Linked DNA regions of Homo sapiens. The protein of the gene in region 5 purifies or fractionates together with the protein of the main gene of each other region. This does not show direct contact. Each region holds a gene or a part of one and is shown on either strand. Other genes may lie near its edges.

Region 1 (4,172 bases), on a different chromosome or scaffold from region 5:
CATAAGTGTGGGATGATTTGGGGACCGTCTTGGGGAACCACCACCATGTCTTGGAAACCAGTGTGTACGAGGACAGCTCAGGATATTATAGCTGGTTGGGCCTTATAGTCCCCTCCCATTATAGGGGGTAAATTGAGGCCTAGAGAGGGAAGGGGTTGTGCCCCAGACCCGCAAAGATGATCAGGGCAGTGCAGTGGCCTTCCAGCGGCCTGAGGGTCCCAGATGAGCTGGAACACACTTCCTTATGAGGCTGTTCAGTGGCTTGATGTCTATCCTTCAAGGTTGACCTCAGAGTCTACTTCCTCCTTCGCTGACACCCGCTCCAGTCCCCCTTCCTGAAGCCCACAGCAGCTGTTGAGCCTCTGGGGCTGCTTTCTGTATAGTGTGAGTTTTGTTTCTTTTTCTCAGCATCTCCCCCCAGCAGCCTGGCTTATTTCTGCCTCTCTTTAGGGCTCAGCACAGGCCAGGAGGAGGGTTGATTGCTTGTCACCTCTCAGGGTCTCAGCTGCAGTCAAGAGTGCCCCTCAATGGGCTGTGCGGCTCCTCCCACACCAGCAGCCCTCTGCCTGCCTGAGGCCCACACTGCAAGCATCCTAATTTGGGGTTCTGCTGGGCTGGAGGCAAGGCCTCTGGTGCAGCCCCAGGCCAGCCCCTGGGCCCTCCTCTGTCTGGGGCAGACTCTGGGATGCACAGGTAACCCTGTTTACCAGCCTTCCAGGCTGGCTTGGGGAGCCCAGGCAACTTTGCTGCTGTAGGGCCCAAGGCTGTTGAGTTGGATAAAAGGCAACTTTATACAAATATAAAAATATAAATTTATTTAATGTGTGTATACACAGGAGCCTTCAGAAGGAAGACCCGACCCCCAAAAGAGGTACAGAAGCTTATATACCATCTTGAGGTCATACAAAGAAATGGGGACTGGGTGCAGTGGTTCATGCCTGTAATCCCAGCACTTTGGGAGGTTGAGGTGGGAGGATCACTTGAGCCCAGGAGTTTGAGACCAGCCTGGGCAACAAAAGGAGACCCCCATCTCTACCAATATTTATTATTTTTATTGTTTTATTTTTTTGAGATGGGGTCTCACTCTGTGGCCCAGGCTGGTGTGCAGTGGCATAGTTACGGCTCACTGCAGCCTTGACCTCCCTGGCTCAAGTGATCCTCCCACCTCGGCCTCCCAATTAGCGGGGCCTATAGGTGCCCATCACCACGCCTGGCTTTTTTTTTTTTTTTTTTTTTTTTTTTTTTTTTTGTAGAGACAGAGTCTCTCTATGTTACCCAGGCTGGTCTGGAACTCCTGGGCTCAAAAGATCCTCCTTCCTCAGCCTCCCAAAGTGCTGGGATTACAGGCGTGAGCTGCTACACCCAGCCCCATCTCTACAAGTAATTAAAAAATTAGCCAGGCATTGTAGCATATGGTTGTGGCCCCTCCTTCCTACTCCATGATCACAGTCTTAGTTCACACCACATTTGTCTTAGTCTGTTTTCTGCTGCTACAGCAGAATACTACAGACTAGGTAATTATAATGAACAGAAATGTATTGGCTCATGGTTCTGGAGGCTGGGAAGTCCAAGATCAAGGGCCCAGTGTCTGGTGAGGGCCTTCATGCTGAGTCATCCCATGGTGGAAGGCAAAAGAGAGAGCGAGAGAGAGGAAGAGCTTGAACTTGCAGCCTCAAAGCCCTTTTATAATTGGTATTAATCCATTCATGAGGGTGGAGACCGTATGACCCAAACACCTCCGATTAGGCCCCACCTCTTAACACTGTTCCTTTTTGGGAGACATATTCAAACCCTAGAAGCAGAATTTTGCAGGATTCTTGTCGTAACCTGCTAATTGACCTCCTTAGACCTGGACCTTAAGTTGGTGACCTGTGAGCTGGGCTGAATCTGGTTGCGGTGTTTGTTTAGTGCAGTGCTTAAAGAATGTTTTTTGTTGTTCCTTTAGATGTGGCCTATGCTTGCTGGTTCCCCACAGGTGTGCCCACTGTTTCTTGTTATTGCACCTTTTCCCAGCTTCTCACATCATTGACATTGCCCACCTGGTTCTTTGACTTTGTAAGGTCTGCCCTTATAAGGGCAGGGACCATATCTGCCTGTCTGACCACAGGATACACAACACAGAGCATGTCAAAAAGCAGGAGTTCAATTCATATATGTTGTTGAGTGAACATTATTCCCCTCTTCAAAAGTCTTTTTTTTCCTCCTGCCCCACTGCAATCTCTCCCAAAAGTCTTTGATGGAATATATCAAGTAAAAAACAAATGTGCAGAACACTTTGTTTAATGGGTGCAAAAAATAATCGTGATTATAGTTGCATAAACTATCTCTGGAAGGAGTCATCCAAACTTGTTACGTAACAGTGGATGCCTCTGGAGAAGGGAACTTGGTGTTTGGGGAATGGGCTGGAAGTGGGATACCCCCTTGTTCCTTCTGAATTTAATTCAAATTTTATAAAATTGGAGTTTCATTAATCAAAGATTTACCTCATCTAAAAAGGTCAATTCATGATCGAGGCCTCTCTCACTGTGGGTCCTCCCAGCCCTCCCAGCCTCCCTGACTCTGATATGCTCTCCTCTTTCTTCCCAGCAGTGCCTGATTTGAGATGGGGTCCCAGGTCTCGGTGGAATCGGGAGCTCTGCACGTGGTGATTGTGGGTGGGGGCTTTGGCGGGATCGCAGCAGCCAGCCAGCTGCAGGCCCTGAACGTCCCCTTCATGCTGGTGGACATGAAGGACTCCTTCCACCACAATGTGGCTGCTCTCCGAGCCTCCGTGGAGACAGGTAATGTGCTCCCGTCTGGGGCTGTCTCTGTGAGGGGGGTCTTGTCTCTGCTCTGGGGCTTGATTTTAGGGCTGGGGGTGGTTTTCTCCATTTAGGGCCAAGTGCCTGCATTCCACTGTCAGACAAGTTCTGGAGAAGCTCAAGGTCTTTGGTCTTAAGTAGCCACCACAATGAGACCCTAGAAGTAAAAGCTTGAGCTTTTCTGACGGTCTGAGGCCCAGATTGGCATTTTAGGAAGTAGGGGTACCCCAGGCATACCTAATGGCCCGACGCTTTGGTCAAGGGCACCCCTGTTGGTTTGCAGCTCGTGAAAGGTTCTGAGTCACTCTGGCTTCCCGTGGGCAGCCTGGCTCTGCCCTATGACCTCTTCTGTGTCCCTTCCCCAGGGTTCGCCAAAAAGACATTCATTTCTTACTCGGTGACTTTCAAGGACAACTTCCGGCAGGGGCTAGTAGTGGGGATAGACCTGAAGAACCAGATGGTGCTGCTGCAGGGTGGCGAGGTGAGTGAGGGCCAGCCCGGCTGCCAGCTGGCTCAAGGGCCCTCTGCAGGGCCTGGGCGGGATCCTCCAGGGTCAAGAGAGAGCTAGGCTGGGGGCGGTGGCTCACACCTGTAATCTCAGCACTGTGGGAGGCCAAGGCGGGCGGATCACCTGAGGTCAGGAGTTTGAGACCAGCCTGCCCAACATGGCAAAACCCTGTCTCTACTGAAAATACAAAAATTAGCTGGGTGTGGTGGTGGGCGCATGTAATCTCAGCTACTCAGGAGGCTGGAGAATTGCTTGAATTCGGAGGTGGAAGTTCCAGTAAGCTGAGATTGCACCACTGCACTCCAGTCTGGGTGACAGACAGAGACTCCATCTCAAAAAATAAAAATAAAAAAAAGAGAATGCTGTCTGTGAGCCCCAAGCCCTGCCTGGTGCTGGGCAGATAGCGGATTCCTCATAAACAAAGGCTTGACCACAGCAACCACAAGAATATGGTGGCAGATATTTCTTGTGTAATTCCTGCATGCCAGGCCCTGTTTGTAGCCTTTACGTAAGTCTCATGAATGTTTACCGTGCCTCTATGGCGAAGGTGGTATAACTTCATTTTACAGAGAAGCTAAAGGGTTAAATGGCTTGCTTAAGATCCCACAGCTGGTAAGAGACTGAACTAGGATTTGAACCCATGCAATTTTAGCCCAGAGCCCATGCTCTAAAAGCCAGCGTCCCAGACAACTCCCAGGCCTGGCCAGCCCTCGGCTCTGTCTAGAACAAAAAGGCACACGCATGGTCCCACATCCCCCGGATCGGGACGTCACTGGGGCAGAGGTTTCCCTTCACTCATTTGTGTGTTCCCCCACCTCACATGTGCATCATGGAGCCTGGAACACACCTGCCATGACTTCAGC
Region 2 (4,172 bases), on a different chromosome or scaffold from region 5:
AAGGAGATCCGCCCCCAGGACTGCCCCATCAGCAGAGTGGACACGTTTCCCCAGCCCCTGGCCGCCCCTCAGTGCCACACCCTGCTGGCCCCTGAGGTCTGGAAATGTGACTCTCAGCCTGCCTTGACCCCTTCCCCGTGTGCCTTTTTCTGACCCAAATCTCATGGTTTCTGGGGCCAAAATTCCCTTTCCTGCCTCCCAATAGCTATAAAAAATTGGTAAAGCCAAGCATAATGAATGGAAAAGTTTCGCCAAATATGTGAGTCACTTTTCTTTTTCTTGGGTAGATGGAAGACAATGAAATGAGTTGTTCACCTTAACCCATTACGGTAAGTTTGCCTTGTTATCTAAGAGTTTGAGTAAGGGCAACCTTTATGAAAAACCTCAGTAAAATTTCACCTTTGAAATTTTTATGTCAACTGATAAGATTTTAATCAACAAACCCTTTTCTAAACATCTGTTGTTGTATGCCAGGAACTGCTTTAAGCATTTTACATTTGAGGCATTCAGTAAACATTTATTGAGCACATACTGTATGTCAGGTGTTGTTCTAGGTTTGGAGATAGAGCAGGGAGCAAAACAGAAATATCTTGGCTCTCACAGTACTTCCAGTTTGGAAAAGAGGCAACAATCAAAACAGTCTGTAAGTGCAAGAGTTTACATACACATATATACTATATAGCTTGCATTTCTCAATTTACATATCTTGCAATATATATAATATATAAGAGTAATATGGGATATAAAAAATAGAAAAAAGTAAAGCAGGGTGAAGAGAATCAGGAATTCTAGGCATGGCAGTTTTCATCTTTTGGTGTTTTTGTTTTGAGACAAGGTCTCACTCTGTCGCCCAGGCTGGAGTTCAGTGGTGTGATTTCCCGGGCTCAAAAAATCCTCCCACCTCAGCCTCTCAAGTAGCTGGGACTACAGGCATGTACCACCATGCCTAGCAAATTTTTGTATTTTTAGGGGAGATGGAGTTTTGCCATGTTGCCCAGGCTGGTCTCGATCTACTGGGCTCGAGCGATCTGCCATCCTCGGCCTCCCAAAGTACCAGGATTACAGGCATGAGCCACTGCGCCCAGCCAGTTTGCACTTTTTAAAAGGGTTGTCATAGAAGGCCTCAGACATTCCTCAGAGGTAATGTTTGAGCAAAGACCTGAAGGCACTGCCGGAGGGAAGCCATGTGTTTATCTGAGGGAAGAGCATTCTGGGTAAAGGAAATAGGCATGTCCCAAAGGTGGAACTGCACGTGGTATGGGAGGAAAGTTTATCCATAGCCAAATGTTCTAAAACCACGATGTTAGAGGATGGCCCTTTCTGACAATGGCATAGCAGGTTATTCAGACTAAGTCAGCCATCACAAAAAGCCACCTTTTTTTTTTTCTTGAGACAGAGTCTTACTCTGTTACCCAGGCTGGAGTGCAGTGGCATGATCTCAGCTCACGGCAACCTCCATCTACCAAGTTCAAGCGATTCTCCTGCCTCAGCCTCCCAAATAGCTGGGATTACAGTGCCCGCCACTATGCATGGCTAATTTTTGTATTTTTAGTAGAGATGGGGTTTTGCCATGTTGACCAGACTGGTCTCAAACTCGTGACCTCAGGTGATCCACCTGCCTCGGCCTCCCAAAGTGTTGGGATTACAGGTGTGAGCCACCACACCTGGCCTTTTTTGTTTTGTTTTTTGTTTTGTTTTGAGAACAGAGTCTCGCTCTGTCGCCCAGGCTGGGTGGAGTGCAGTGGCACTATCTCAGCTCACTCCAACCTCCGCCTCCCGGGTTCAAGAGATTCTCCTGCCTCAGCCTCCTGAGTAGCTGGGATTACAGACGTGTGCTCCCACCTCACCCGGCTAATTTTTGTATTTTTAGTAGAGACGGGGTTTCACCATGTTGGCCAGGCTGGTCTCAAACTCCTGACCTCACAAAATCTGCCTGCCTCAGGCCTCCCAAAGTGCTGGGATTACAGGCCTGAGCCACCACACCTGGCCACAAGAAGCCACCTTAAGAAAAAATTGAAACAGCAAATCATTGTGTGAAAGAGATTTACAGTTTTTAATATTTAAAGGGTCCTGTAAATCAATAAGGAAAAACATGAGAGTGGCCAGTAAGCACATGAAAAGCTGCTCATCAGGAAAATACAAGTGAAAACTCAAAATATCAACAACACTAAGTATTTGAAAGGATATGCAGCAATTGAAAGCCTCGTACATGCTACTGGGAAGGTAAAATGGTGCAGCCACTGTGGAAACTTAGGCATTACCTACTAAAGCTGCATGTGTGCCAGTTCCACTCCTAAGAAATGAGTCCTAGAGGCCGGGTGCCGTGGCTCAACGCCTGTAATCCCAGCACTTTGGGAGGCCGAGGTGGGTGGATCACCTGAGGTCAGGAGTTCAAGACCAGCCTGACCAACATGGCAAAACCCCATCTCTACTAAAAATACAAAAATTAACCGGGCATGGTGGCGGGCACCTGTAATCCCAGCTACTCAGGAGGCTGAGGCAGGAGAATCACTTGAACCTGGGAGGTGGAGGTTGCAGTGAGCTGAGATCGTGCCACTGCACTCCAGCCTGGGTGACAGAGTCAGACTCCATCTCAAAAAAAAGGAAATGAGTCCTAGAGTGTTGCTAGCAGCACTATCTATAGTATATGCCCATTAAATCGTGGTACATTCACCGTGGAGAACTGTACAACAATGACAGTGAACATCCTGCAATTACACCAAATAACACCTTGTAGTTATTCATTAAACTGAACATATATAGGTTTTATGCATTTTCTATATGTCATGGTTCACCATAAAAGGAGGAAATGTCACAAAAATGTTAGCAGCAGAGTTAGCTAGGTGTGGTGGCACATTCCTGCCTGTAATCCCAGCTACTTGGGAGGCTGAGGTGGGAGGATCACTTGAGCTTGGGAGGTTAAGGTTGTCGTGAGCTATGATGGAGCTCCACTGCACTCCAGCCTGGGTGACAGAGCAAGACCCTGTCTCTAAAAAAACAAAACAAAACAAAAAAACTTTCTTTGACTTTTGGTTAGCTGGCAAACTGATACAACTCAGAAACTGCTCAATGTCAGGAAAACCGGAACTTGTTGATGAACTTGTTTTCAAAATATCATCTCATCAACGAGGCCTGGACAAACAAGCCCTGAGGAGGGATCTGCAACAACCCTGAAGACAACAAGGAAAGAAACCATGAAAGTCTGTCTGTACTGCAGTGGGAATTCTTGAGTGAGGTCTTACCTCTTCTTTAAACCTCTTCAGGAGTGTCCTGATTATGTCCAGAATTTTCCCTAAAGGCAGGGATTCTTAACCTGGATAGAAGCCAGGGGTAACCATGAACTTGATGGAAGAAAATGTTACATCTTTATTTTCAGCAATGAAACTGAAATTTAGCCTTACTCCCAAGTTATAAATGCTGGCAACAAATCACAGTAGTAAAAGCAGTACCTGGGATTTTCCCACCAATACAAACCAGTTACAGCAACTGTAATGTAACATAAAAAGGGCATCTTGAAGTATTGTTCATATTTGTCACCTCTTGGAATGATAGCAGATCCTGTAAGTTGATGTATTAATTAAAAAGCCCATATATTACTGCATCTCAATTTTGTTTCAATTTAATATATAGTAATAATTGTAATTCAATGTAATTGGCTTCCATTGTAATTGTGTGTGTGTGTATGTGTATGTATATACTTTTAAAAATATTCTGTGAAGGGGTTCACAGATTTAACCAGATGCCAAAGGGTTCTGCAGAACAAATTTATTTATTTATTTTGAGACAGAATTTCGCTCTGTCACCCAGGCTGGAGTGCAGTGGTGTGATCTTGGCTCACTGCAACCTCTGCCTCCTGGGTTCAAGCGATTCTCCTGCCTCAGCCTCCCGAGTAACTGGGATTACAGGCACCCGCCACCACACCCGGCTAATTTTCGTATTTTTAGTAGAGACGGGGTTTCACCATTTTGTCCAGGCTGGTCTCGAACTCCTGACCTCAGGTGATCCACCCACCTCGGCCTCCCAAAGTGCTGGGATTACATGCGTGAACCACCGCACCCAGACTTCAGAACAAATTTTTTAGGTTAAAAACCTGTCTTAAAGAAACGTCAGGGCCAGGCGTGGTGGCTCACGCCTGTAATCCCAGCACTTTGGGAGGCTGAGGCAAGCGGATC
Region 3 (4,172 bases), on a different chromosome or scaffold from region 5:
ATGTCTTTCATGTCAGCCTTGTAATATTTTCACAATAACCTTGGTGATTAATGACCTAATCTCTTGATTTGTCCCTCTGACTTTTGGTCCTTCGACCAAGCTGCACAGTAGCTCCATATTAATTTCCCTTAAAAATGTTTTATGGCTATCATACATTTTATAATATTAAATATAAGATTTACTTTTTGAGAATAATAAAATGAATACCTTCATGTTCCTCTGTGTCTTCTTTCTCCTTCCCACACCCACCCACTACCACGTATTTTAAGATTATAATGTATGGTATTTATATAGGACTACCTGGCAAGGCATAATCCTTAAAGACCCTTTTCATGCATTAACTCATTTAATCCTCACAATAACCTTCTGAGATTGGCATTAATATTTCCTTTTTCAAATGAGCAAAATGAGGCACAGAGAGGTTGAGTCAAAGTTCTCTAGCTAGTAAATGACAGTATCTTAATGGGCTTTGGATTTAATGGGTTTTGCTGTTCATTTGTTTGCCAGATATTAGAAACAATCTTGTATTCATTGTTATATGCTGTACATGGCAAATGTTTCTCTAGAGTGCAGTTCTCGAAGTATGGTCTCACAACCCTTGGAGATCTCCAAGACCCTCTCAGAGTCTACAAGATCCTTCTGTAATGACCACGTTTGTGGTAGACTAGATCTTTAATAAGTCAAACAAAATAACATATCCAACAGAGCGAATGCAGAACTAGATAAGAGAATCCAGCATTCTTTTTTTAAAGCAAACATTAAAGAGATCTGCAGAAATGTAAAATAGTGCCATTCTTTTCACTAGATCTTTTAGAGTGTAAAGGGGTCCTGAGAGAAAAAGTTTGCAAGGGGCAACTCTAGGGCAGTGATTTTTCTTTTTTTTTTCCAGACCAGAGGCTGGGCTCTGGATTACAGCTCAGTAGTGGGTCATGGAATATGTACTGTGACTCAACCCGTATCATTTTCAAGAAAGAAGAGAGAGAAAATCGTTCAGCAAATATAACTGAATGAATTATCTGGTTCACAGAGTATGTGCGTCTTCAGCTTTACTCGGTCATACTAAATTGTTTTACCAAGTGATTATACCAACAACCCTCTTTATTTTATGTCCTCTTAAATGGATGGTATCGTCCCACTTGTAAATTTTTGCTGTGTGTGTGAAATGGTATCCTATTTTCTGATTTGTGCACCTCTTATCATTGGTGAGTATGCACCCTGTTTTTTTCAAACCTTTACTAGTGTGTGTGTGTGTGTTCTTCTGTGAAATACCTGTTCATGTCCTTTGCCTGTTTTTGTCTGTTAAGACTGTTCCAGAGACATCTTGGCTGGTCTTTGATATCTTTCGATTAATAGTTGTTGTTACTTTTAATGTAAAATTTGTTAGTCTTTTTATAATTAGTGATTTCTGTTTAAGAAATTCTTCCTTTCTCCAAGGCCTTGGTTGTATTCTTCTATATTTTTTTCCTACTTATTTTAAAGTTGAAGCCTTTTATGTCCTTAATTTACTTGAAATTAATTTGTATGCTGTGAGATAGGGATCCAGTGTAACGGTTTTACTTAAAATACACAATTGTCCCCACACTACTTGTTGAAAATTCATCCTATCCCCAATGGTTTGCAATATGTTCATTTCCATATGTGTATGGGTGTGTTACCTGGCTCTTTGTCCCTTTGTTGTATTTGTCTCTCCTACTTAGATACCCACTTGGAGGTGGGGGGGTCATTTACCTCCTTGTTACTCAAGAGAAATATTAGCTATTGTTGGTCCTTTGCTTTTCTTCAGTAGAAATTCTGGAACCTGCTGTTGGAATTTTGGTTTAGATTTTATTGAATTTCTAGCTTAATTTGGGTGTAACTGATACGTTTAGGATATTGACCCTTCTGTCTGAATGTTATGTTACTCCATTTATTTAGAACTTTAACATTTTTCAGTACTTGTATAATTTCATGTCTTGTATATTGTTCAGTTTATTTCTAGTTTTTAATTGTGTGATATATATTTTCATAAGTTGCATTTTCTAATATATAAAATTACTGACTCTTACATATCTATTTTACTCAGCAATCTTCCAGACTTAATTCTCATAATTGAGGATTTTTTGTTTTGTTCTATTTAGTCATGATACGAAATTGGGATTCTTCCTTTTCAATCTTAATAGCTGTTATTCTTTTTTTTTTTCTTAGTGTGCAGACTAGGGAAATGAAGTACAATGTTGACCAGAATTGATGTAGGTATCTTTGTCTTACTCCTGATTTTAAAAGGAATATTTCAAGTTTTCCACCATTAAGTATGTTTGCCATCTTTTCTTGTAAAACTTCATATTATCATAAGGAAGTAAGTTTTTTAAAAAATAATGGCTGGATGTTGAATTTTATTGAATGCTTTTCTACATTTGTTGACGATCGTATTGATATTTAGTTTGGAACTGTTGCATTGATTGCACTGCTCAGAGCTGTACATCATGTTCCTCCACCATTGGACCTTGACTTCTCCAATTTTATTTCCTCAACATGTGTACACAAACTCTTTTTTTCAGCTAAACTGATGTATTCATTAACCTGGAAATAATTGCCTTTTATATCCATTTCTAGCTTGCCTATCAGAATACATGTCAATCTACAAGACCCAGTATCGATTTCAGCACTAATAAAGACCTTCCTTTACCATACTGTTTTGAAGCAGTGTTCTGTTGAATGCATCTGAATTTAATTTGCACTTAGTCTCTATTACATCCAATTTACCAGTTCCCACCTACTGTTTTGTATTTGAGTTTTATCTAGGTAATATCTTGCAGCTGTGTTGCATGTGCCACTTATAAAGAAAGCAAGTAATATGCATTTTTAAATTATGCTTCATACTTCACACAGTGTCATAAAAAGATGTTCAATAAATATTTGAATTATGTGTTCCTAAATGAGATATTTGCCCTAAGAACTAAAGGCTGCAGGAAAAGCTAGTGATCAGGTTAAACATTTTGCCTTTAATCCTGAAAGTTTCTCCTACAATCATATTTTGGTTGGAATAATTTTTACTGAATGCTTAGGGTCATGGAGAGATTAGTGGATTGGGAGTTAGAATTGGGCTCCTTTCTACGCAGCCTTCCTATGATATTTGTGCTATTTGTTAAATATAAAGAAGCCCAAAAGCTTTTGGTGATCTCTTAAAGGGTTGTAGTGATTTTGTTGAAAAGGATAATCTTTTATAAGTAATGTGCAGTTTCCTGTTTTGCGGAGGAAATGTATAGTTAATATTCAACAGATTTATTGAACATAATAAAACTCCTTTATTAGAACTTAATTTCTCCAGCAAAAATTCTACACCAACTGGGTGTACTACAATTATTTTAATTCTGACACTGCCCAGATGTTGCTCAGACCCCCATACATTAAGGGGCTCCGTTTCACAAGACTGCCTGCCCCCAAGTCAGTCAGAGTTCGCAGAGCATCTGCATTTCTGCTCAGCTGACTACAAATTATGGGATTCCTGCAGCTTTCCAAGAACGGCTCACAGTACTCAGGAAAGACTGTTCTTAAGCAATTTCAGTTTTATAAAGGACACAACTCAGAAACAGCCAAATGGAGGAGACATAGGGCAAGGTGTGAAAGGGCTTCTGTATCCTCTGGTGCAGCACCTTCCCAGCATATCAGTATGTTCAACAATCTAGAAGCTCCCCAAACCTCATTATTCAAGAGTTTTCATTGAGCTTTCATTACATAAATACATAATTGAGTAAATTATTGTCCGCTGGTCACTGGGCTCAATCTGTCCCTTACCTCCCCTAAGGTCAGGGCCTAGGGCTGAAATTTGTGACTCTTCCCCCCCACCCCACCCCCCTCCCAACACACACACACACAGACGGAGTCTCACTCTCTTGCCTAGGCTGTAGTGCAGTGGCCCAATCTTGGCTCACCACAACCTCCACCTCCTGGGTTCAAGTGATTCTCCTGCCTTGGCTTCCTGAGTAGTTGGGATTACAGGGCACACCCCCACACTTGACTAATTTCTTTGTATTTTAGTTAGAGACAGAGTTTCACCATGTTGGCCAGGCTGGTCTCGAACTCCTGACCTCAAGTGATCCGCCCAGCTCGGCCTCCCAAAGTGCTGGGATTACAGGCATGAGCCACCATGCCTGGCTGAAATCTGTAGCTCTTTATAATCTAGTGGTTGGTTT
Region 4 (4,172 bases), on a different chromosome or scaffold from region 5:
TGTTTCCATTTTCAGCAGCGTCTTCCCTTCCCTCATGTTGCCCAACTCCTTTCACTCCTACAAGATCCCAAGGCATCATCAGAAGACATTTTGTGTTTCTCAAACCTGCCTGATGATAAAAATAACTTTTCATGTAATATAGATTACCAGGCCTTTCTTTTGGAAATTCTGATTCAAAGTCTAGGTTGATGCCCAGGAATCTGTGTTTTTGACAAGCACTTCTGATGAGCCTTTTCTTCAGATGAACATTAAGATAAATAGGAGGGGCTCAGGTTTTCCCCACACAAGAATTAAAGAGCCATGGCCACTTGACCTGGTTTCTGAGGGGCTGTCAAAAGTTACCACCCTAAGCCTCTGGTCAGCAGTGCTGAGGGAATGAGGGACTAGAAGAGTCTTCTGGTCTACCTCTTAGTCACCTTGGCCCAGCCCTGTATCCTGGCTCCCACCTTCCTGAAAAGACGAGCCTAAGGGAAGGGGTGCTCAGAAGCCCCTCTACTTCTAGGACTGCCCACCTGGCTTCTTGCCCATTCTTTCCACAGACATGCTTTCTGTTCTGTCCCTTCTCCCAGCTGTCATGAGCACATGAATTCATGGTCCTCTCTGTTGGGTTTGGTAACGACCTCTGCCCCATTGGGTAGGAGTTGACTTTTGCATGCAGGGAGAGCCTGATTTCTCAGTCAATCCCCCATTACTGAACCAGAGTGGAAAGAGATGAGACTGGGAGGTGGGGGGAGCAGGGTGGGCCCAGGACAGGAGTCTGGATCTGGATAGTGTGTCTGGAGGGTAAAGCAGACTGGGCCAGTTCATGCCATTCCCGAGGCTGACAGGCTACCCAGGTGCTTGTGAGGTCCTCTTTGCAGCCATTTCTTAGTAAAAATCCTCCTGGTTCCTAACATCTGCTTCCAGCAGAATTTCTGTTTAACTCATGGAGAGTTCCATCCTAGGATCCCTGTGTACATGAAGAAGATGAGAGTGAGTTAAATGCTGTGTTTGGGGGAAGGAAGCCTTCCTTCCTTGATCTCTTGGATGAGTTGCAAAAACTCATCTTGCATCTGCAGTTTCCCTCCCTTAATACTCATTACCTCTATGATGGTTTCTTTAATGCGTATGCTCACCCCTGGGTGAAACCAAGGAAGAGCAATGCTTTGAAAGATGACAGGCAATGGAGCCGGTAGGTGTAGGGCATGATAAGGATACCTTGGGGACGGGACCACAAGGGACAGAGGCAGGGCAAGGTATAGGCCGAAGTTCAGGTGGACAGCAGGGGCGGCGTGCAGAACTACAGCTCTGAGGCCCTGCGGCCAGAAGGCTGGAGCTGAGGCAGCCTTTCCATTCATCTCTGAGGCTTTCCTCCACATTTTTCAGAAACAGGACCCCCATCTCCACCCCCAAGCAGGCTAGCCAGGGGCTTGTCAGTGTTGATGAGCGACTGTGCCAAGGGTGAGGAATGAAGGTACGGAGAGGAAATTAGCTAGTCATAGGTAGACGGTTGGTGTCTTGGAGCCTCCCGTGCCTCGGCTCAGGGGCAAAAGTTGTCCCTATCAGTATCATAAATGCCAAACCTTTCTCCGGCCTTGAGTTAGTTCTTAATGTGAATGCAGTAGTCTGGACTTCCACTCCACCCAGACTTTACTCCTGTCCTCTTCCCCACCCCAGGGTTGGCCAAAAGCACAACTTAAAGCCACTGATGGACAACGCCCTGTTTCTTGTCTTGCAGCCGTCTCCAACCTGGACATAGAGAGTAAGCTGAGTGTGTACTACCGCGCCCCGTGGCACCAGCAGCGCAACATCTTCCTCCCAGCCACAAGGCCACCCTGCGTGGAGGAGCTGCACCGCCACGCCCGGCAGAGCCTGCAAGCCCTGCGCAGAGGTGACAGATCCTGGGCTTGGGGGCTTTTGCGGGAGACAACTCGGAGGTTGTCCCATCCAGGTGTCCTCTGTCCCATCAGCCCCAACACACCCCCTTATTATAGCAAGTACTTTGAAATGCTCCCGTTTCTACCCTGAAATGAAATCCATGGGTAATATGCCCAACCCATACACATAAGAAAAAATAATATTATGGTCTAAATATGATAATAAAGAGAAATTAAAAGGAAATTATTGATAATAATATCTATTTCAATATGCAAATGCTCAGGCATGACCTCACTAGAAGACATCATGAAGCAGTCAGATGTCTGCACTTGTCAAAAGCAAGTCTGGATTAAGTACAGACCTTCAGAAACTATTCCGAGGGGCAGGAGGGCATGACCATAAAAACTGGTACATTCAGTATATATTAGATATGGGCAAAAAATAAATACTTTGGATTAGAATGAAAAGGGAATTTGGCTTGACTCATAAATAGGCACTAGGTTTTTCCCCTATAAGAGATTCTGATGGAACATTTAAAATTGTGTGAGACCTGGGACACATTTTCATTGACCATCCTCTGCATTATGGGATGGCTGTCATCTTTGGCTCCCATCCAATCATTGTAACAATTAGAATGATCCCCTAGAGGGCTCTTCTGCTTCTCTTGAGAACCAGTGATCGGTCTAATGCCCCCATTCTTTAGTGGGACACGCGGAGGCCTAGAAAGGTGAGGAAACTTGCTCAGGGTCACACATAGCAGGTTAGGTGTGGTACCAGGACCCAACCTAAGCCTCTGAAATGCCTGCCAGAGCTCTTTTCCTCCTTGCCATACACTGTGTCTCATGGAAATAGGTACTGATGTTTACATGTCTCTCACAGTCCTGAGAAAGCTAGAGATAGGCTCATAGCAGTCAAAATAGGAATACAGTTTTTTCTTACACTGGTTGCTTTTCAGTGCCTTAAAACCATTCTAATTAGGACAAGGGGAATAAAAAGTAGCTTCATTGTTTTAGAGCCCCCTAAATTGGGTATCAGAAGGGGACATGTCAGCTTTTTTTGGCCTTTAGATTCTTGCTATGGAGATAGATGGTGTCTACACATTCAATGTCTTTCTTCCAAATTCCCTACACTCTTTTAAGAAATGGCATTTTGCAAAAGTATTAAAATGCAAGTAAAATATTTTAATGTCATTATCAAAGTGGAGAAACAAAATGGTGATATTGTTTTCATCTTATTTATTCCACATTTGTATAACTCCTGCCTTTTCCCCATCCTTATCTTCAATAGTTTGTTGCCTTCAATTATCATCTTTTTTCCCTCCTCATCTTTTTTCCCTTCCTCATCTTTTTTTCCTTTTAATGAAAGAGCTAACCTCCTAATATCCCTAAAGCAATTGTTTCTAAAAATTTTCCTTGGTTATTAGGGGAAGACATTGTGACACTTACAATGAAGAGTGATGATCAGTATCCTGTAGAAGCATCTTTGGCATACTTACCATTCACTTCAATTTTATAGTTGGCTAAGAAGTTCTTTTTTAACTTAAGCCACCTTCTGAAAATCTTTCTTTCCACACTTGCCATTCCTTTGCAGCCTGGATTAGGCACCCTTCCCATAATATCCTGTGCATCCTCCCATCCTGCCACTTAGAATCTTATAATCAACCACTATGGGCCTGTTTTACCAACCAACCACTAATAAGCCATTAATCTATGAGCAACTCAAGGGCAAGGATGATATCTTATTAATTTATTTTATTCAAAGCACTTAGCATGAAGCTGACATATAGTAGGTCCTCAATGAACATTTGTGGAACTGAATCAAGTTTTGCAAAAAACTGGTTGAACATTGAGGGCACAGGATGACTATAAAGGAATCTGATCGTTCTCACCAAATCCTTTCTCAGGTCCCATCATTAGAAATCTTGGGTAACATTAGCCCTTTAGGTATAATTATTTTTATCCCTTTATTTTATTAATAAGTCATCCCTGATTAGGATTTTATGGATTCCACCAGATAACACCAAGCTGCTCGTAAACTATCACATTTCACTGCTTTGTCAGGTTTAGACTTAAAGCAGAACTGAAGAACAGCAAGTGCCGATATCAATTTTCTCTGAACTTCCTCCTGTGGGGCGGTGAGAGAGGGATGTGGGGCCTCCTGGGGTTTGGAAGGAAGACTGTGGAGATGCGTTTTACCCTCCACAGACTGGCTTGTTTTGCGGTTGGCTCAATAGCATATCTTGGGTGTAGTAGTTTTAATAGCACTGCAGAGAGCCATAAACAAGAATTATAGCCATCATGGAATTAAAAACATGC
Region 5 (3,007 bases):
CTAGGCTCAGACTGGCTGGAAACAGAATCTTCTCGGGGTGGGGTGGGGCGGGAGTTGAACCAGAGTTAGTGCCCAGGGGTCTCTGAACACCACTGTGTTCAGCATCTGTCTCCCAGCATCCCAGAAGTTTTGCCCATCTCCCCGGGGGAGGGGTACCAGGACTTGCACCCACCCTAGACGGGAAGTGACTTTGTAGAGAGGAAGTGTGATGTGAGCGTGGGGGCCTCTTATTCCCTTCTGTTCTTATGCTGCTTATTTCTCAATTTTATTAAAGCCATCACTGTCTCAGATCCTGTTATCCTAGCCCAATAAATGGAAGGAGAATAAAGATAACAGGGGTACTTTTTCACTGCCATCTCGAGAAAGAGGAGACACGAGTTCCGTGGGCATCTGTGGTTCCCATGAAATGTAGCTCAGGCGTTGATGTCAGCCCTGGCCTCAGAGACTTTCCTACCAGGAAGAAAGGAAGAACTGCTATTTCGGGCAGCTGCCAACTCCTCTCGCCACCTGCCGGGGCTCCAGGCAACATGCTCTCATTTTGAAAGGCTAAAAGTCACAGCTTTGTCCTACTAATACAAAGCGTCCCTTTCTGCCCTTCCCAGGGCTGTGGAAGAGAAAAAAAGAAATAAACTTCACACACATCTCAGACCCCAGAACATTTCTTCCCCACCCCCCGAGGGCTGGGAATTTAATAAGGTCAATCTAAACCAAAATTACAGAGTATTTTGGGTAAAATTGTGTCTATGACTGGCTAATCTAAAGAAATGCTTTGAGGAAAGAAAAAATCAAACATTCTTTATGAGAAACCTGGAAAGTCACATCCTTGAGATGCTTTCTAACTCCTTTTGGAGGTCATGGGCTTTCGGCTTCTTCCTGCTCCAGCCATTTCTCCAGGGGTGCTTGGTCGATGTGCACTTTGCCTCCCCCGCGTTCCTGCAGCATTCACTCCCCTGCACCTCATTCTTTTGCCTTTCCTGAGCTCTCACCCGTGCACCTGACAATCTCTGGCCCTTCTCTGTGTCACACATCGTGTTGGCTGTGCCGCTGACAGGGGGCTTTTTATGGCAGGAGTTCTGCTCCCTTTTGGAGCTTCTCTGTTTCATTGTTCATTCAGGCTGTTAGAACAGAATACCACGCCTGGGCAGCTTATCCACAACAGACATTTCTTCCCCACAGTCCTGCAGGCTGGAAGTCTGAGATCAGGGTGCCAGCATGATGGGGCCCTGGAGAGGTTCTTCCCGGCTGCAGACAGCTTCATGTGTCCTCACATGGCAGGAAGAGAGCTGGGTAGCTCTTCAACCTCTTCTTAGAAGGTCACTAATCCCATTCACGAGGGCTCTACCCTCAAGACCTAATTACCACCCAGCAGCATCACCCCCTTAAACCATCGCCTTGGGGACTAGAGCTTCAATGTATGAATCTCAGGGGACACAAACCTTCAGTCCATAGCACCCTCAAACACTATGATGAAGTGGCACAGTGAGAGTGGCCACCCGTGGGGCAGACTTCAGAGGTCACCCTGCAACCTTTCTCCAAATGTGTGTGACTGTCCTTGCGCCATGTAGGTTGTGTGTTTCAGTTGCGCCAGGTGGATTGTGTGTTTTAGCTGAAGATTTCTTTCTCAATGATTGCAGACATCATGTAAAACAAGGCATTTTAATGGTACAGTGACTGATGACTGAGAATTTCTTTCTTTTTTTTTTTGGAGATGGAGTCTTGCTCTGTCACCCAGGCTGGAGTGCAGTGGCATGATCTCAGCTCACTGCAACCTCCACCTCCACCTCCCGGGTTCAAGTGATTCTCCTGCCTCAGCCTCCTGAGTAGCTGGGATTATAGGCATGTGCCACCACGCCCAGCTAATTTTTGTATTTTAGTAGAGATGGGGTTTCACCATGTTGGTCAGGCTGGTCTCGAACTCCTGACCTTGTGACCCACCTGCCTCAGCCTCCCAAGACTGAGAATTTCTTAAGCAAAAATACACAACCTTGGTTGTACATATGTTCCTTTTAGAAATGTGGAGATATAGGAAAGAATTAAGAAAAAAAATCCATCACAAACAGCACTGCCATGGCCCTATCCACACCTTGTTTTTGGCATCTATTTCTCTATTCTTATTTGTATGTTTTCACATGCATGCATAATACATGCACGTGTATATATTTTTACAAGTTGTATAGGTTGGTGCAAAAGTAATTGTGGTTTTCACCATATTTTTTTAATTCCATTTTTTTTTTCTTTTTTAGCCCAGGGTAGGATATCTGAGATTCTTGCATTTGAAAGGTACAAGGACCTAATATGACCTAGAAAAGCAGGAACTTTTGCTGGGCATTCCGTTTCATAGGAATATTTAAAGATAGATGAAACTGATGTTCATTCTTAAGGCTAGATGCCCGTGAGACTGAGCTTTGCCAGGTGTCTGTGCTGCCCGGCATGTAGATACCTTCTTTGGCACTGGCTTACCCTGTGGCTTCAAACGTGTAAGTGGATATTGAGGAAGAGTGGGTGAAACCGTTGCTGTTCCCCAAAGGCAGGAACCCTATGTGGCTTCTTCACTGCTGTGTCTCCAGTGCCCAGCACAGTGCCTCCCACATCAGAGGTGCTCAGTGAACGTTAGATGACTGGCATTTCAGCTGTAGGGTGGCTTGTACACTGACAGTCTCTCTGTCTCTTTCAGGAGGGTTGGAGCCCAGGCGTTTGGTACGGGGCGTGAAAGGCAGAAGCATTAGCATGAAGGCACCCACCACTTCCCGAGCCAAGCAGGGACCATTCAAGACCATGCCTCTGCGGTGGTCCTTTGGATCCAAGGAGAAACCACCAGGTGCCTCCGTCGAGTTGGTGGAGTACTTGGAATCCAGACGAAGACCTCGGTCCACGAGCCAGTCCATTGTGTCGCTGTTGACGGGCACTGCGGGTGAGGATGAGAAGTCAGCATCGCCGAGGTCCAACGTCGCCCTTCCTGCTAACAGCGAAGATGGTGGGCGGGCCATTGAAAGAGGTCCAGCCGGGG
Region 6 (4,093 bases), on a different chromosome or scaffold from region 5:
GAGTAGCAGGATCAAGGATGAAAGCTGGACTTCAAATATGCCTTGTTAGTGTAAATGTGACTGTGGAACTGTATGAGTATTTTAAGATTATGGAGTAAAGTAAGTTTTAAAAAGCAGTCCCTAATCATCAAAAGTAAAAAACTCTTGATGTAGTCATATAACCACACTAAGAACTCTTCCAGGTGACTTCAAAACATAGGACAGTACATCTCTAGTAGAATATGCCCTGAGAATGAAAAGAATGTAACAGTGTTAGTATTTTGAATAAACATGTTATTACTAGACTGTTGCTTTTATTTTGAGATGGTTGTGTGTGTATTGGGGGGAAAGGAAACGAGTAATTATGTTGGTGTTACTGAGAACTGAGATGTTGGGCGTAGGAGGAAGATAATGTTGATTGTGTCTACGTACCATTTCTCTCTAAAAGGAACTCCAGGCTCTTTGGAGAGGTGGTTGATTCCAGAACTAGGTCAGGAAACGTTCATATAATGTGGGAACATGGTCATATCAAAGATTAAGGATAAGGATTACTAGGGCCATGTCAGAACTCAAGCAACATGAAAAGGCTCCTGCTTGCAAAAGATGGACAGTTTGAACATCCACAAGGACGCTAACTGCATCAGATATGTTTAATGGGTTCAAAATGATACTTTAAAAAAACTCAGTAATCATCTTTATAGGATACTTGGGAACAGACTCATTTTCAAATTGGTAAATAAAAGGAAAGAGTTTGCCTTCGAGGGGTACATAACTTAATTATGAATGAAGTGATATGTGTGGAATTTACTTCAGAGTAATGGAGGTGGAAGTGGCAGAGAAAGGAAACACTGGACTTGATAGTGTTGAAACTGATTAATGATATGTGGCGGTTCATTATAGTATTTCCACTTTTCTGTATGTCCAAAATTTTCTAAAATAAAAGGAGAATTGAATAGAAAAATGCTTCCTGGAGGTAGCTGTGTCTTACCTGAGACTTGGCAGGAGGCAGTAGGGCCTGAGGGAACAGCATTTACAGTGTCCTAACGGTTATACTGAAACTTTCCACGTATACTTGATGGAACATCAATCTGAAGGCATCCTACACTTCCTCCATCAGACCTGATGGTGCAAGTGAACACCATCAGTGCCTTTCCAGTTTCATCAAAGCAGTTATTTTAGCTTCTCTGACCCAAGGTATATCAGTTCTATTTTAACGTACATTACAAAGACTAATGGTTATACTTAGAGACACGGGTCTGTTGGGGACAGCAGTGGCTTAGGGTGGCTGTAATCCCAGGAAGGAATGTGGAGAAGGAAATGAACATTTTTTTTTTTGAGACGGAGTCTCACTCTGTCGCCCAGGCTGGAGTGCAATGTCACCATCTCGGTTCACTGCAGCCTCTGCCTCCCAGGTTCAAGTGACTCTCCTGCCTCAGCCTCCCGAGTAGCTGGGATTACAGGCACCTACCACCACGTCTGGCTAATTTTTATATTTTTAGTAGATACGGGATTTCACCATGTTGGCCAGGCTGGTCTTGAACTCCTGACCTCAGGTGATCTGCCCGCCTCGGCCTCCCAAAGTACTGGGATTACAGGCGTGAGCCACTGCTCCAGGCCAGAAATGAACACTTGATGACTGAGTGAGTGAGCCTACCAGCTGAGGATACTAATGATAAGGGCTCACATTTGTTGGGTGTCCTGTGATGTGCTGGGCAGTCCTAAGCCCTTGACCATTCTGTTATTTTGAAGCTTTAAGGAGATGCACTAAATGGAAGTCCATATAATAGAGTTGGATGGAGTACCTGGAAATTCAGATGGTCCAACTTGAATGAGTGAATAAATAGGGAAAGCTATCTGATTAAAAGTGGGTCCCCTCTCCATGTGTGAATTGTCAAGTTGTGGGGATTACTCCTGTTTTTCATAATAGTTACGTTGATTTTTCAGGTGAAGCACTTGAGGAAGAACTGGATTCCATGGCAAAACATGAATCCAGGGAAGATAAAATTTTTCAGAAGTTTAAAACTCAGATAGCCCTTGAACCAGAACAGGTAAAGTGGAGCTCATAGCTCCTCATCGTGTTCTCTTCAGGCCATGTTTTATGAGTATAATCTGTAAGAAATAACTTCATAGTAACATTAGTCTGTTCCTTAGGAGCCTATAAAAGCAGGCTTTTGTTATCTTGTTAGAGGAGTTCCTCACACAGATGGGCCATGTAGAAAGGTGTTTTGCAGTGCTGATCCATTTAATAGTTACTAAAAGACTAAAGGTTATACTGTTTATCATACAGGGTTCATTTTCTAAAGCAAGCATCAGGGATGGGAGATGAATGAGATGTTGCCTAAGGTACATGAGGTTTAGGCACCATTGGCCCCCCCGCCAGAAAGAAAAAAGGTTATTTTTGCCCATTTCCAACAGGTAACTTTGGCTTGTAAAATGTGACATGTTAACATTTTTCTCCTTAACCTCCCCTACCATAAACGTAAATCACGAAAGAAAACTAAACTCCCATAAACCAGTCACTGGTTCAAATAAATACACAGGAAGAATAGATCTAGGTCTTAAACACTAAGGCAGTTTTTAGCAATGCATATGCTTTTAGACAAAATACAGAAAACCACTCAGTTGCTGTAGGAAGCTTATTACAGTGAAATTTACTTATGTTTGTAGTAGTTTTCAAAACACTATGTTTCACTTGGTATTTGTCCCTCCTAAAATTTTTTAACTATGAAGGTAGGCACAGACTCTGGGCAGAATTCTGCAATTAGAGCAGAGGCTCATTCTTAGTCCCTTCACAATATATTCATAGGATTAAGTTGCCAACATTAGGTAGTAAAAGCATCATCTGGGAGATATATTTTGATGCCCTCTGAGTCAGATAAACTGAAATAATCACTTTGAGGTGATTGAGAAGGCATTAGTGGCACACTGGTACAGCCAGGTCTGATGGGGGAACTGTGACATGCCTTTTGGGTCAGTGCTACATCAAGAGTAGGAACATTCATGGAGTAGATAGCATGTTACCATTGGCAACTTATAGGTAAGGTATTGATTATTTGAACATGATCTTCATTGATTTTAGATTCTTAGATATGGCAGAGGTATTGCCCCCATCTGGATTTCTGGTGAAAATATTCCTCAAGAAAAGGATATTCCAGATTGCCCCTGTGGTGCCAAGAGAATATTGGAATTCCAGGTATGACCTTAAATAAGGACCATTTAGTGTGTAATCACCATGATTGTTTTTAAACATTAAAAACTTCACCAAGGTAATTTGTGCACATGGGTCAACATGGCAGTATGGAAGGGTACCCTATAATGAAAATCATCAGTTTCCTGCCTCACCTTGGGGCTAGTTCCCTGGAAGGAACTGTCTTGTTTTTTTCTGTTTCCTAGTTTTCAGACACGGTCTATTGACTGACTTCTGTGACAATGAGGATATCTACACTGCTCTCCACCTCCAGTGTGGTTATGTCATTATTATTAGTGCCTCTGTTAACTTTTGTTATTTTAAATAATGTATACCTTCCTTTCTTGTTCTAGTAATTAAAGTCTTTGACTATATACTTTATGAGAGGAGTCTTTACTGTTTAATCTTGGTTTGTGGATTTGTTAGAAAAAATGGATATAAGCATTAAAGATAAATGTCCTTCCCTGCCCAAAAGGATTTGTTAGCATCAAAATCCATTTGGGTAGGGTGGAAATGCTCTTGAGCTATGGATTCACTAACCTTACCAAAGTCATAGCTAATATTGGTTTGTTTCTTTGGGTAAAAAAGGAATTATGAGGACCATACACAAAACTCTGCTTGGTTCTTAGTGCCAAAGCTCTCAATGTCCAAATTGAGGTGACAGGATTTGTATAAAGTGATTCCATATCAGGTGGCTATTCTGCCTATTCACTCTTTGAGTTAGACTACTTCTAAGATTCCTCTCTGGTCTCTATAACTACATTGATAGATGTCCTTTCTGTATTCATTACTAGTAATTAGTGTTTCTTGAGTCAAGAGTAACAACATCTGCAATGATACAAAGTAAAAGTTGCCCAAATAGAAGCCTCAGCCCTTTTGAGTGGCATATTAGTAATGAAAATAATTCATTAACAGCCACTTGTGAAC
Region 7 (3,905 bases), on a different chromosome or scaffold from region 5:
AGGCACCCAAACCAAAGAGCAGCCCAGAGCAGCCCATAGGCCAGGGCCGGATTCGGGTGGGGACCCAGCTCCGGGTGCTGGGCCCTGAGGACGACCTGGCTGGCATGTTCCTCCAGGTAGCGTTGCTGCTGCATGTGGGTCTCCACCTGCAGCCCCTCTTCCTGCGTGCAGCCTTCGCTGCCGCCTCGCACGCACAGCGGCCTTTACTTGCGTGACCGCCTGACCCAGGCACGCTGCACACGCACAGCGGCCTTTACACGCGTGACCGCCTGACCCTGGCACGCTGCTTTCACGTAACACCCCCATGCTCTCAGATGGAGGCTAGGCCAACATTGGGGAAGGGGGTCGCCCTGCATCCTCCCTGCCATCCTTGCACACCCCTCTGCGCGGGGCACCCGGTTTGATGTGTACAGAAGCTGAGGTTGCAGGTCTCGCCTGAGGTCTGGCTGTTGGAGCCGGGGATCCTGCAGGCCTCACCACCTCCTGATGGAGAGCCTGGTGGTCCCTGGGCAGGCTCTGGACACCTTTGTTCTCTGGGGCAGCTCCTGGGTGTTGGGGTCCCTCACTGCTTCACATCACAGGTCTCAAGGGCCCTGGGCCCCTCAGGCCACAAGGTGGGGGCTACGAATGAACAGGGACACGATGGGACGCGGTTCTGGCACGGAGCTGCACCGGGCGCTTAGCCTCTCCGCTGCGCTCCTCCTCCTTCTCCTCCGCTTCCTCCTGACACTGGCCTTCCCCGTTCCAGATTTTCCCGCTCAGCCCGGACCCTCGGTGGCAGAGCTCCAGTCCCCGCCCCGTGGCCCTCGCCCTGCAGCAGGCCCTGGGCCAGGAGCTGGCCCGCGTCGTCCAGGGCAGCCCCGAGGTGCCGGGCATCACGGTGCGTGTCCTGCAGGCCCTCGCCACCCTGCTCAGCTCCCCACACGGCGGTGCCCTGGTGATGTCCATGCACCGTAGCCACTTCCTGGCCTGCCCGCTGCTGCGCCAGCTCTGCCAGTACCAGGTACTTGGGCGTGGGCCTCTTGCGGGGGAGGAGGGCAGTGAGGGCTCTGCCTCCCGCAGGACGGCCCGGGTGTCCTGTGACTGCTCCTCTGTGGGTCTTGGGTCTCAGTTTCCAAGTGAGAAAGGACAGTGCCCCAGGGAGTGGCGGCAGGTCCCCTTTTTCCAGTGAACATTCCCCCGGGACGGGAGGTGGGGGCAGTGCGGCGTCCGCCTGTTTGCACCACCCAGGCTCGGCGCTCCTGCCTTGCTTTCCCCATCTGCTGGTACCTAGGACTGTGTTTTACTTGGTGTCTGTGTTTACTTTTTCCTTTGAACCGCGTGGGAGCCCTCACCAGCTGGGGGGTTTTGAAAGGGTCTCTGTGAGGTCGTCTGGGCCCGTGCAGGGGAGGCACCGTTTCAGACAGGAGGCGGGATGAGGTTGGCCCAGGCTCCAAGTGCCGGTCGCGGCAGGTCTCAGCAGCCTCACGGGCCCTGCTCTGGGCCTCGGGTGCCGGGTCCCCGTGTGTCCTCTGCCAGGGTAGCCACGTGCCACTTTGTCCCCGCAGCGCTGTGTGCCACAGGACACCGGCTTCTCCTCGCTCTTCCTGAAGGTGCTCCTGCAGATGCTGCAGTGGCTGGACAGCCCTGGCGTGGAGGGCGGGCCCCTGCGGGCACAGCTCAGGATGCTTGCCAGCCAGGCCTCAGCCGGGCGCAGGCTCAGTGATGGTGAGGACCGCGCCGGGCTGGCAGACGGCTGGGGGGCACTGGACAGGGGCTCACTCAGAGTGGCCAAGCTGCCTGGCACCCCGAGGCCTGGGCAGTGGCTTGGGGGGTGGGTACCCGCGTGGGCCCAGGGGAGCCCTTCTACCGTGGGGCCTCCCTGGATGGGATACACCGATGGGGTGAGGGCTGGAGCCACAGGGCACTCACACAGACCTCCCACAGTGCGAGGGGGGCTCCTGCGCCTGGCCGAGGCCCTGGCCTTCCGTCAGGACCTGGAGGTGGTCAGCTCCACCGTCCGTGCCGTCATCGCCACCCTGAGGTCTGGGGAGCAGTGCAGCGTGGAGCCGGACCTGATCAGCAAAGGTACCTTCCTGGCACCATCCTCTTGGGCCACGGCGGCCCTGGGAAGACCCAAACCTGAGGCTCCTTCTAGCTGCCCAGTGGGGGACGGACAGTGTCTGCTCAGCACTGTCCCCGGAAAGTGCCCACAGAGGTCCCCTCCCAGATGGCTCAGGGCGGGGCCTCTTGAGAATGAGTTGGAGCTTCCTCCTTGGGGGGCCCCTGATCACTGCTGCACCCAGCAAAGTGAGCCCCGGCCCCGGCCGCACTCTCCAGCCCCGGCCGCACTCTCCTCTCCGGCCCCGGCTGCACTCTCCTCTCTGGCTCCGGCTGGACTCTGCTCTTGTGTCCCACACATGCTCACCCCACACCCCACCCTGGCTAGCCCACACCCACTCAGCGGCCCCCACCCGACCTGGGAGTGACCCACATGTCTCTTTGTCCCTTGCGCAGTCCTCCAGGGGCTGATCGAGGTGAGGTCCCCCCACCTGGAGGAGCTGCTGACTGCATTCTTCTCTGCCACTGCGGATGCTGCCTCCCCGTTTCCAGCCTGTAAGCCCGTTGTGGTGGTGAGCTCCCTGCTGCTGCAGGAGGAGGAGCCCCTGGCTGGGGGGAAGCCGGGTGCGGACGGTGGCAGGTGAGCTGGGGTGCTGCACACGGCCAGGGTGGGCAGGCGGGTGGCACCAGCCCTTCCCTGAGCCACCTTCTCCCTGCAGCCTGGAGGCCGTGCGGCTGGGGCCCTCGTCAGGCCTCCTAGTGGACTGGCTGGAAATGCTGGACCCCGAGGTGGTCAGCAGCTGCCCCGACCTGCAGCTCAGGCTGCTCTTCTCCCGGAGGAAGGTGGGTGGCACCCAGCTTCAGCACGGGGACCCACCCCAGGGTAAAGGCTCTTCCTGACCTGAAGTGCAGCAGCCTTGGCCTGGGCGAGCCTTGCAGGGGCCCCAGCACCCCCCCTGCTCTCAGGCCATGTGTCCCTGTAGCAACCCAGAGGAAGGGTAGGTCCCCCAATGGCCCTAGCAGAACCCAGGCCAGGGTCACAGTCACCTGTGGACCAGCACTGTGACCAGCCAGATGTGGGGATGGGGTGGGTGGATGGGGTGGGGTCGGCCCTGCCAAACCCTGTAGATCATGTAGGGGCCTCCATCTTCCCAAAGGGAATGGGGCTGTGGCCAGGAGAAGGGAGGGCAGGTGCTGGGCTCCCCACATCCTCCAGGGAGGGACGGCCTCACCAGAGAGGCTGCATGGAGCCCCGGGCACCTCCGCTGTGTGGCATGGCTCCCGTGGGAAGGGGCGGGGAGATGCAGCGCAGCCACCAGGAGCGGCCCTCCAGCACCATGACGGGGCCGGTGTTACCGGCAGCACCCCAAGCCTCGGCTCTCTGAGTGGCTCATTGGGGAAGCTGTCAGCTGACTTCAGCAGAGCCTGCCATTGGCCCAGGTGAGGCCATCCGGGCTTCTTCCTCCCTCCCCAGGGCAAAGGTCAGGCCCAGGTGCCCTCGTTCCGTCCCTACCTCCTGACCCTCTTCACGCATCAGTCCAGCTGGCCCACACTGCACCAGTGCATCCGAGTCCTGCTGGGCAAGAGCCGGGAACAGAGGTGGGCGCCTCCCTGTCCCCAACCTGGGCTGCGCGCATACTGGCCTTCACCAGAAATCTCCCAGCGCCGGCTCTGACTGGTATCTCCCATGCTGAGACGAGACACCTCGTGCTCTGGAACCTTTGCCTCCCCACAGGTTCGACCCCTCTGCCTCTCTGGACTTCCTCTGGGCCTGCATCCATGTTCCTCGCATCTGGCAGGGGCGGGACCAGCGCACCCCGCAGGCAGGTCTTGGGAGGGTGGCCCATCCGGGAGAGGGGGTGGCC

What was found.
Region 1: the proteins of USP43 (region 5) and AIFM2 purify together in Homo sapiens (affinity purification with western blotting, with the first as the bait; one study listed by BioGRID). This does not show direct contact.
Region 2: the proteins of USP43 (region 5) and FTSJ1 purify together in Homo sapiens (affinity purification with mass spectrometry; one large-scale study listed by BioGRID and IntAct). This does not show direct contact.
Region 3: the proteins of USP43 (region 5) and CEP57 purify together in Homo sapiens (affinity purification with mass spectrometry, with the first as the bait; one large-scale study listed by BioGRID). This does not show direct contact.
Region 4: the proteins of USP43 (region 5) and NHS purify together in Homo sapiens (affinity purification with mass spectrometry; one large-scale study listed by BioGRID and IntAct). This does not show direct contact.
Region 6: the proteins of USP43 (region 5) and PDCD2 purify together in Homo sapiens (affinity purification with mass spectrometry; one large-scale study listed by BioGRID and IntAct). This does not show direct contact.
Region 7: the proteins of USP43 (region 5) and INTS1 purify together in Homo sapiens (affinity purification with mass spectrometry, with the first as the bait; one large-scale study listed by BioGRID). This does not show direct contact.

The regions. Positions count from the first base shown.
Region 1 is NC_000010.11:70,122,515-70,126,686, reverse strand, and holds part of AIFM2 (ferroptosis suppressor protein 1), read left to right. Parts: intron 1-2,586; exon of another isoform or gene 2,587-2,589; 5' UTR 2,590-2,602; coding exon 2,603-2,780; intron 2,781-3,166; coding exon 3,167-3,282; intron 3,283-4,172. UniProt on the Homo sapiens protein: A NAD(P)H-dependent oxidoreductase that acts as a key inhibitor of ferroptosis.
Region 2 is NC_000023.11:48,482,699-48,486,870, forward strand, and holds the end of FTSJ1 (tRNA (cytidine(32)/guanosine(34)-2'-O)-methyltransferase), read left to right. Parts: coding exon 1-96; coding exon of another isoform or gene 97-153; exon of another isoform or gene 154-256; intron 257-287; coding exon 288-320; 3' UTR 321-329; intron 330-542; exon of another isoform or gene 543-643; intron 644-3,037; 3' UTR 3,038-3,652; downstream 3,653-4,172. UniProt on the Homo sapiens protein: Methylates the 2'-O-ribose of nucleotides at positions 32 and 34 of the tRNA anticodon loop of substrate tRNAs. Requisite for faithful cytoplasmic translation.
Region 3 is NC_000011.10:95,793,332-95,797,503, forward strand, and holds part of CEP57 (centrosomal protein of 57 kDa), read left to right. Parts: intron 1-889; exon of another isoform or gene 890-1,202; intron 1,203-2,184; exon of another isoform or gene 2,185-2,210; coding exon of another isoform or gene 2,211-2,228; intron 2,229-4,172. UniProt on the Homo sapiens protein: Centrosomal protein which may be required for microtubule attachment to centrosomes. May act by forming ring-like structures around microtubules. Mediates nuclear translocation and mitogenic activity of the internalized growth factor FGF2, but that of FGF1.
Region 4 is NC_000023.11:17,686,025-17,690,196, forward strand, and holds part of NHS (actin remodeling regulator NHS), read left to right. Parts: intron 1-1,717; coding exon 1,718-1,870; intron 1,871-4,172. UniProt on the Homo sapiens protein: May function in cell morphology by maintaining the integrity of the circumferential actin ring and controlling lamellipod formation. Involved in the regulation eye, tooth, brain and craniofacial development.
Region 5 is NC_000017.11:9,725,280-9,728,286, forward strand, and holds part of USP43 (ubiquitin carboxyl-terminal hydrolase 43), read left to right. Parts: intron 1-2,674; coding exon 2,675-3,007. UniProt on the Homo sapiens protein: May recognize and hydrolyze the peptide bond at the C-terminal Gly of ubiquitin. Involved in the processing of poly-ubiquitin precursors as well as that of ubiquitinated proteins.
Region 6 is NC_000006.12:170,577,936-170,582,028, reverse strand, and holds part of PDCD2 (programmed cell death protein 2), read left to right. Parts: exon of another isoform or gene 1-940; intron 941-1,923; coding exon 1,924-2,027; intron 2,028-3,058; coding exon 3,059-3,172; exon of another isoform or gene 3,173-3,249; intron 3,250-3,372; coding exon of another isoform or gene 3,373-3,393; exon of another isoform or gene 3,394-3,547; intron 3,548-4,093.
Region 7 is NC_000007.14:1,476,528-1,480,432, reverse strand, and holds part of INTS1 (integrator complex subunit 1), read left to right. Parts: coding exon 1-116; intron 117-748; coding exon 749-1,003; intron 1,004-1,547; coding exon 1,548-1,707; intron 1,708-1,926; coding exon 1,927-2,067; intron 2,068-2,496; coding exon 2,497-2,680; intron 2,681-2,759; coding exon 2,760-2,883; intron 2,884-3,514; coding exon 3,515-3,639; intron 3,640-3,775; coding exon 3,776-3,863; intron 3,864-3,905. UniProt on the Homo sapiens protein: Component of the integrator complex, a multiprotein complex that terminates RNA polymerase II (Pol II) transcription in the promoter-proximal region of genes.